Homo sapiens: one gene and its partner. The protein of the gene in region 2 purifies or fractionates together with the protein of the main gene of each other region. This does not show direct contact. Each region holds a gene or a part of one and is shown on either strand. Other genes may lie near its edges.

Region 1 (4,128 bases), on a different chromosome or scaffold from region 2:
CATTATACATTTATTAGAAATGAACAAAAATTAACAAATGACAATGCTAAGTGTTAGAATGGATGTGGAGAGGTGAGAACTTTTATACACTGCTGTTAGGTATGTAAAATGGTACAACTACTTTGGAGAACAATTTAGTAATAGCAAGTGTAGTTGAAAAAGCATATATTGTAAAATCTAGTAATTCCACTCCTAGATGTATACCCTGGAGAATGTGTCCTACATATGCTCAAGGAATCATATACATTATTTATAAGAGGAACAATTTGGGAACAATTTAAATGAACAAACATAGGAACATAGATAAATTGTAGCATAACCATACTGTAGAACACTATAGAGCTATAAAAATAGAATTGAATGCATCAACATAGTTGAATATCATAAACATAAATTTTATCCAGAAAACATTCTGGCTAAGAGTACATACAGTAAGGTCGGGTTTGGTGGCTCTTGCCTGTAATCTCAGCACTTTGGGAGGCCAAAGTGGGAGGATTGCTTGAGGCCAGGAGGAGTTTAAGACCAGCTTGGCTAACATAGTGAGATCCCATCTCTTAAAAAAAAGGAAGGGGGAAAAAAAAAACGAGTACACACAGTAAGATGCCTTTTATACAAAATTGTAAAGCATGACAATGCTATAGATTATTTGGAGAAGCATACATATGCAGTTCATGTATAAAGAGATTTACAGAGGCTGGGTGCAGTGGCTCACGCCTGTAATCCCAGCACTTTCGGAGACAGAGACGGGCTGACCATCTGAGGTCAGGAGTTTAAGACTAGCCTGGCCAATATGGTGAAATCTTGTCTCCACTAAAAATACAAAAAATTAGCCAGGCATGGTGGCTCATGCCTGTAATCCCAGCTACTGTGGAGGCTGAGGCAGGAATCTCTTGAACTCCTGAGGTGGAGGTTTCAGTGAGCCGAGATTGTGCCACTGCACGCCAGCCTGGGGCGACAGAGCAAGACTTTGTCTCAAAAACCAGCAAACAGGCTGGGCGCGGTGGCTTACGCCTGTAATCCCAGCACTTTGGGAGGCCGAGGCAGGCGGTTCACGAGGTCAGGAGATCGAGAGGCTAACATGGTGAAACCCCGTCTCTACTGAAAATACAAAAAAAAAAAAATTAGCCAGGCGTGGTGGCGAGCGCCTGTAGTCCCAGCTACTCAGGAGGCTGAGGCAGGAGAATGGCGTGAACCCAGAAGGCAGAGCTTGCAGTGAGCCAAGATCGCGCCACTGCACTCCAGCCTGGGCGACGTTGCGAGACTCCGTCTCAAAAAAAAAAAAAAAAAAAAGTTTTGCGGGTTTTTCCCCCCGCCCCTTTGCCCCCTCCCCCCGCCTTTATTCAGCTTCCGGTAGACGCTGGTAGGGTAAGGGAGCTAAGTAGATCACTTCCGGGCGACTGTTGTTTTATTTCCGGTTTATGCGACCCGGCTGCGATTTGCTGCTGAGGGCAGCAGCTACCGTCACTGCCGCCATCATGTCAGACTCGGACAGCGAGGAAGATTCATCTGGAGGTGGCCCATTTACTTTAGCGGGTATCCTTTTCGGCAACATCAGTGGAGCGGGGCAGCTGGAGGGGGAAAGCGTCTTGGATGATGAGTGTAAGAAGCACTTGGCAGGCTTGGGGGCTTTGGGGCTGGGCAGCCTAATCACTGAACTCACGGCAAATGAAGAATTGACTGGGACTGGCGGTGCCTTGGTAAATGATGAAGGGTGGATTAGGAGTACAGAAGATGCTGTAGACTATTCAGACATCAATGAGGTGGCAGAAGATGAAAGCCAAAGACACCAGCAGACGATGGGGAGCTTGCAGCCCCTTTACCACTCGGATTATGATGAAGATGACTATGATGCTGATTGTGAAGACATTGATTGCAAGTTGATGCCTCCTCCACCTCCACCCCCGGGACCAATGAAGAAGGATAAGGACCAAGATGCTATTACCTGTGTGTCTGAAAGTGGAGAAGACATCATCTTGCCCTCCATCATTGCCCCTTCCTTTTTGGCCTCAGAGAAAGTGGATTTCAGTAGTTACTCTGATTCAGAATCTGAGATGGGACCTCAGGAAGCAACACAGGCAGAATCTGAGGATGGAAAGCTGACCCTTCCATTGGCTGGGATTATGCAGCATGATGCCACCAAGCTGTTGCCAAGTGTCACCGAACTTTTTCCAGAATTTCGACCTGGAAAAGTGTTACGCTTCCTACATCTTTTTGGACCAGGGAAGAATGTCCCATCTGTTTGGCGGAGTGCTCGGAGAAAGAGGAAGAAGCATCGTGAGCTGATACAGGAAGAGCAGATCCAGGAGGTGGAATGCTCAGTAGAATCAGAAGTCAGCCAGAAGTCTTTGTGGAACTATGACTATGCTCCACCACCACCCCCAGAGCAGTGTCTCGCTGATGATGAAATCACGATGATGGTTCCTGTGGAGTCCAAATTTTCCCAATCAACTGGAGATGTAGATAAAGTGACAGATACCAAACCAAGAGTGGCTGAGTGGCGTTATGGGCCTGCCCGACTGTGGTATGATATGCTGGGTGTCTCCGAAGATGGCAGTGGGTTTGACTATGGCTTCAAACTGAGAAAGACACAACATGAACCTGTGATAAAATCTAGAATGATGGAGGAATTTAGGAAACTTGAGGAAAGCAATGGCACTGATCTTCTGGCTGACGAAAACTTCCTGATGGTGACACAGCTGCATTGGGAGGATTCTATCATCTGGGATGGGGAGGATATCAAACACAAAGGGACAAAACCTCAGGGTGCAAGCCTGGCAGGCTGGCTTCCTTCTATTAAGACTAGGAATGTAATGGCTTACAATGTTCAGCAAGGTTTTGCACCCACTCTGGATGATGACAAACCTTGGTACTCCATTTTTCCCATTGACAATGAGGATCTGGTGTATGGACGCTGGGAGGACAATATCATTTGGGATGCTCAGGCCATGCCCCGGCTGTTGGAACCTCCTGTTTTGGCACTTGATCCCAATGATGAGAACCTCATTTTGGAAATTCCTGATGAGAAGGAAGAGGCCACCTCTAACTCCCCCTCCAAGGAGAGTAAGAAGGAATCATCTCTGAAGAAGAGTCGAATTCTCTTGGGCAAAACAGGTGTCATCAGGGAGGAACCACAGCAGAACATGTCTCAGCCAGAAGTGAAAGATCCATGGAATCTCTCCAATGATGAGTATTATTTCCCCAAGCAACAGGGTCTTCGGGGCACCTTTGGAGGGAATATTATCCAGCATTCAATTCCTGCTATGGAATTATGGCAGCCCTTCTTTCCCACCCACATGGGGCCCATCAAAATCCGGCAGTTCCATCGCCCACCTCTGAAAAAGTACTCATTTGGTGCACTCTCTCAGCCAGGTCCCCATTCAGTCCAACCTTTGCTAAAGCACATCAAAAAAAAGGCCAAGATGAGAGAACAAGAGAGGCAAGCCTCAGGTGGTGGAGAGTTGTTTTTTATGCGCACACCTCAGGATCTCACAGGCAAAGATGGAGATCTTATTCTTGCAGAATATAGTGAGGAAAATGGACCCTTAATGATGCAGGTTGGCATGGCAACCAAGATAAAGAACTATTATAAACGGAAACCTGGCAAAGATCCTGGAGCACCAGATTGTAAATATGGGGAAACTGTTTACTGCCATACATCTCCTTTCTTGGGCTCTCTCCATCCTGGCCAATTACTGCAGGCACTTGAGAACAACCTTTTTCGTGCTCCAGTGTATCTTCATAAGATGCCAGAAACTGATTTTCTGATCATTCGGACAAGACAGGGTTACTATATTCGGGAATTAGTGGATATTTTTGTGGTTGGCCAGCAGTGTCCCTTGTTTGAAGTTCCTGGGCCTAACTCCAGAAGGGCCAATATGCATATTCGAGACTTTCTACAGGTTTTTATTTACCGCCTTTTCTGGAAGAGTAAAGATCGGCCACGGAGGATACGAATGGAAGATATAAAAAAAGCCTTTCCTTCCCATTCAGAAAGCAGCATCCGGAAGAGGCTAAAGCTCTGCGCTGACTTCAAACGCACAGGGATGGATTCAAACTGGTGGGTGCTTAAGTCTGATTTTCGTTTACCAACGGAAGAAGAGATCAGAGCTAAGGTGTCACCAGAGCAGT
Region 2 (3,354 bases):
TTCCATGCTACACAACTTACAGTACTAAACATACACTTAAAATGTTTTTGTTTTATCTTGTTTGCTCTTGTTTTTAAGGATTGCCATTATGAGCAGATTTTTTGTTTGTTTGTTTCAAAATAAATTTATTGAATTTTACTTCTCTCCTAAAGGTAATATTTACAGATTTTAAGGTTGTTAACGTTCTGGCAGTGTGTAACATGCCATTTGAAATCCGTTTGCCAGAATTCACAAAGAACAATAGACCTCATGCCAGGTAAGTCTTTGAAGCAATTTATCTTGAGAAATTACCAAATTTGAAATTACTAGTCAGGGTATAAATATTTATATTAATTGTGGCTTATTTTGTGTAGTTACGAACCTGAACTTCATCCTGCTGTGTGCTATCGGATAAAATCTCTAAGAGCTACATTACAGATTTTTTCAACAGGAAGTATCACAGTAACAGGTATTCTATGATATTGAAACCACACTTATCAATTATGGATTGAATGATACAAGATGCTCATACCAAGATAGAAATAATGTGTGATTTGTTCCTTTCAGTCACTTCTGCCCTTTAGAGGAACCAGTCTCCTGACTTTTAACACTAGATGCATTTTGCCTACTTTTGTACTATTTATAAATGTTACACTTACTATTTTGTGTCTTTTTTCACTCAGCATTATCTTAGTGAGTTTCATCTATATTATATTCTATGTAGCTGTATGTAGATCATTCGTTCTTATTGGGCATTTGAGTAGTTTCCAGTTGGAGCTTTAAAAATATTCTGGTAGGCCAGGTGCATTGGTTCATGCCTGTAAGCCCAGCACTTGGAAGGCTGAGGCGGGCTTATCACAAGGTCAAGAGATCAAGACCATCCTGGCCAACATGGTGAAACCCCGTCTCTACTAAAAATACAAAATATTAGCTGGGCGTGGTGGTGAACGCCTGTAGTCCCAGCTATTCGGGAGGCTAAGGCAAGAGAATCATTTGAACCCAGGAGGCGGAGGTTGCAGCGAGCTGAGATCGCACCACTGCACTCCAGACTGGCAACAGAGTGAGACTCTGTCTAAAAAAAAAAAAAAAAAAAAAATATATATATATATATATATATATATATATATATATATATACACACATATATTTTCTGGTATATGTATCCATAGTATGATTTTTTTTTTGTAAATTCATGATATCTTACATTTAAAATTCTCATGAGAAACTCATAAATTTCACAGAGGTTTTACATAAGCAAAATATTAAATATAATTGGTACCTGTTTGTTATGTTTGTCTTGCTATATCTTTTAATCTTTATTTGGAGAAAGGGTGGTTTCAGAAAACTAGGCATTCATGTCAGAGAGTAGCATTAGCATGCTGTGTGACATTTTAATGGTACTATGATTATAAATTGTACAGAGGCATTGCTTGGGAGTCAGGCCCAACCTTAGGCAAAAAAGAATTAAAGAAAATGTCTTTAATGTCCTTGAGCTTTGTTTTTTCTTTCTTCAATCCACAGAGGAAAATAATTTAGTCTCTCAACAAATAAACTTTAGTTTTGACTCATCCCATGGGTTTTTCCATCTTCCTTGGGGACTTTCAAAACGTATTCCCAAGATCCCACCTGCATCTTAAATATGGGATGATAGGAGACGAGTCTGTTTGTTCCCTTCTTTCAGCTCTCTGTTTCTACACTTTGGAGCATGGATGTCTGAGAAGCCACAAAGCCTATTGAACAATCTCTACTAAGTATATAATAAAACAATGCATATGTAAAACTCTGTATTTACTGAGTTACTAGATATTAAACAAAACAATAACAAACTGAAGACAATTCACCTGGTTAAGCAGTATGCATTATTTACTTAGATCAGGAATAGCCTATGAAATGTTACTGAATTGGTTCCCATGAACAAAGCATAGCAAGGTGGGGGTAAAGTGAGTCAGGAAGGACCTGACCAAGATAGGATGTGTGGTTAGGACTTTCAGAGAGTTTACAGTGGGTGGATTTGTTAGTTTCCTGGGTCTTTCAAAAGAGGTTAAGTGTGTATTGGTGAAGCCATTTTTATTCAAAATTTTATGAGAATAGTTTTCATTGTCCTTTTTTATGTTTCTTTTTAGCGATTTAAATGAAAGATTACATTTTTATAAAGTTGTTCAAGAATTAGCATAATGCATGGTCACCTCGTAGCCTTGTGCTTTTTTTGTTTTCTATTGACTTGTATACGCTCTGAGGGTGAAATGACCAGATTGGTAATAAATATGTGGATACCCAGTGGTGGTAAATCTGTGGGGATTTTTAAACCAGCATTCTGGTTTCCCAACATTTTGGTAGCAGCTTTGTTTCACTCTGCTGTGTTCCTCCATATCCCTGAGCCTCTGTTGTAGCCTAACCAGAAGCCAGATGATAGTGACTTAAAGGATAGCTGTTATTTAGTCCCATTTGTTACTCCTTCCTTTCATGTACATATTATATTACAGTGCTTTTTATATTAGTCCATGATAGTTTGTATGCCCTAAAACAAAGTGAATAACCTCATTTTGTGTTTCATATGTCCTTTAATTGCCCAGAACAAAATCTGTATTACTTTTACTTATTATGGCTATGTGTATAATTATATGTCTAGTTTTCTTTTTTTTAACAGTTAACTTGATATTCTATACCACTTGAATATTTTTAATTCTGGAAAATCAGTTTTTCCTAGTGCTCCCTTTTCCAACTCTTCTCACTCCTTCCTCCATTGTGTTTATTACAGGGCCCAATGTAAAGGCTGTTGCTACTGCTGTGGAACAGATTTACCCATTTGTGTTTGAAAGCAGGAAAGAAATTTTATAATTCACCACTTAATTGGTTAGAATCTCTAACTGAGCACCTTTTAAACCTGCTGCACATTGGACTCAAAAGGAAAACTGGACCAACAATAATTGAGGAAATAGACTCTTTTATTCATTCACGGCTACAGTGTAAGCTCCAGTCCCTTTGGATTTTATTCCAAACCTTGCTGTAATATAAAAGGAAGTTTACAAGACATGATATTGCTGCTTTTACAAAAGGACATTCTATTTATTTTCGCAGTAATTCTCATGTCCCCATAAGCAGAGCTGTCACAGTGTGCACTACCTTAGATTGTTTTATTGTCGTCATTGTTATTTTTTTCCATTTTGAGCTAATGTGTTTTATTTGTGAATAGTCTTTTACATTTTTGTATGCTGAATATGGGCACCAAAGAACCTGTAAAAGTTATCTTTTTCAATTGAATGTGCACAAATAAAAGTTTGGAAAAGATCTCTCTTCATTCTATAACTTTTATTCCCCATTTTCTATTTTAACAAAAATTGTATTCATACTTCTTTTTTTTAAAATCTATGCAAG

Evidence for each region. Proteins that work in one complex are often made in the same cells at the same time.
Region 1: the proteins of TBPL1 (region 2) and TAF1L purify together in Homo sapiens (affinity purification with mass spectrometry, with the first as the bait; one large-scale study listed by BioGRID). This does not show direct contact.

Annotation. Positions count from the first base shown.
Region 1 is NC_000009.12:32,632,870-32,636,997, reverse strand, and holds the start of TAF1L (transcription initiation factor TFIID subunit 1-like), read left to right. Parts: upstream 1-1,328; 5' UTR 1,329-1,418; coding exon 1,419-4,128. UniProt on the Homo sapiens protein: May act as a functional substitute for TAF1/TAFII250 during male meiosis, when sex chromosomes are transcriptionally silenced.
Region 2 is NC_000006.12:133,984,224-133,987,577, forward strand, and holds part of TBPL1 (TATA box-binding protein-like 1), read left to right. Parts: intron 1-152; coding exon 153-256; intron 257-353; coding exon 354-448; intron 449-2,737; coding exon 2,738-2,817; 3' UTR 2,818-3,354. UniProt on the Homo sapiens protein: Part of a specialized transcription system that mediates the transcription of most ribosomal proteins through the 5'-TCT-3' motif which is a core promoter element at these genes. Seems to also mediate the transcription of NF1. Does not bind the TATA box.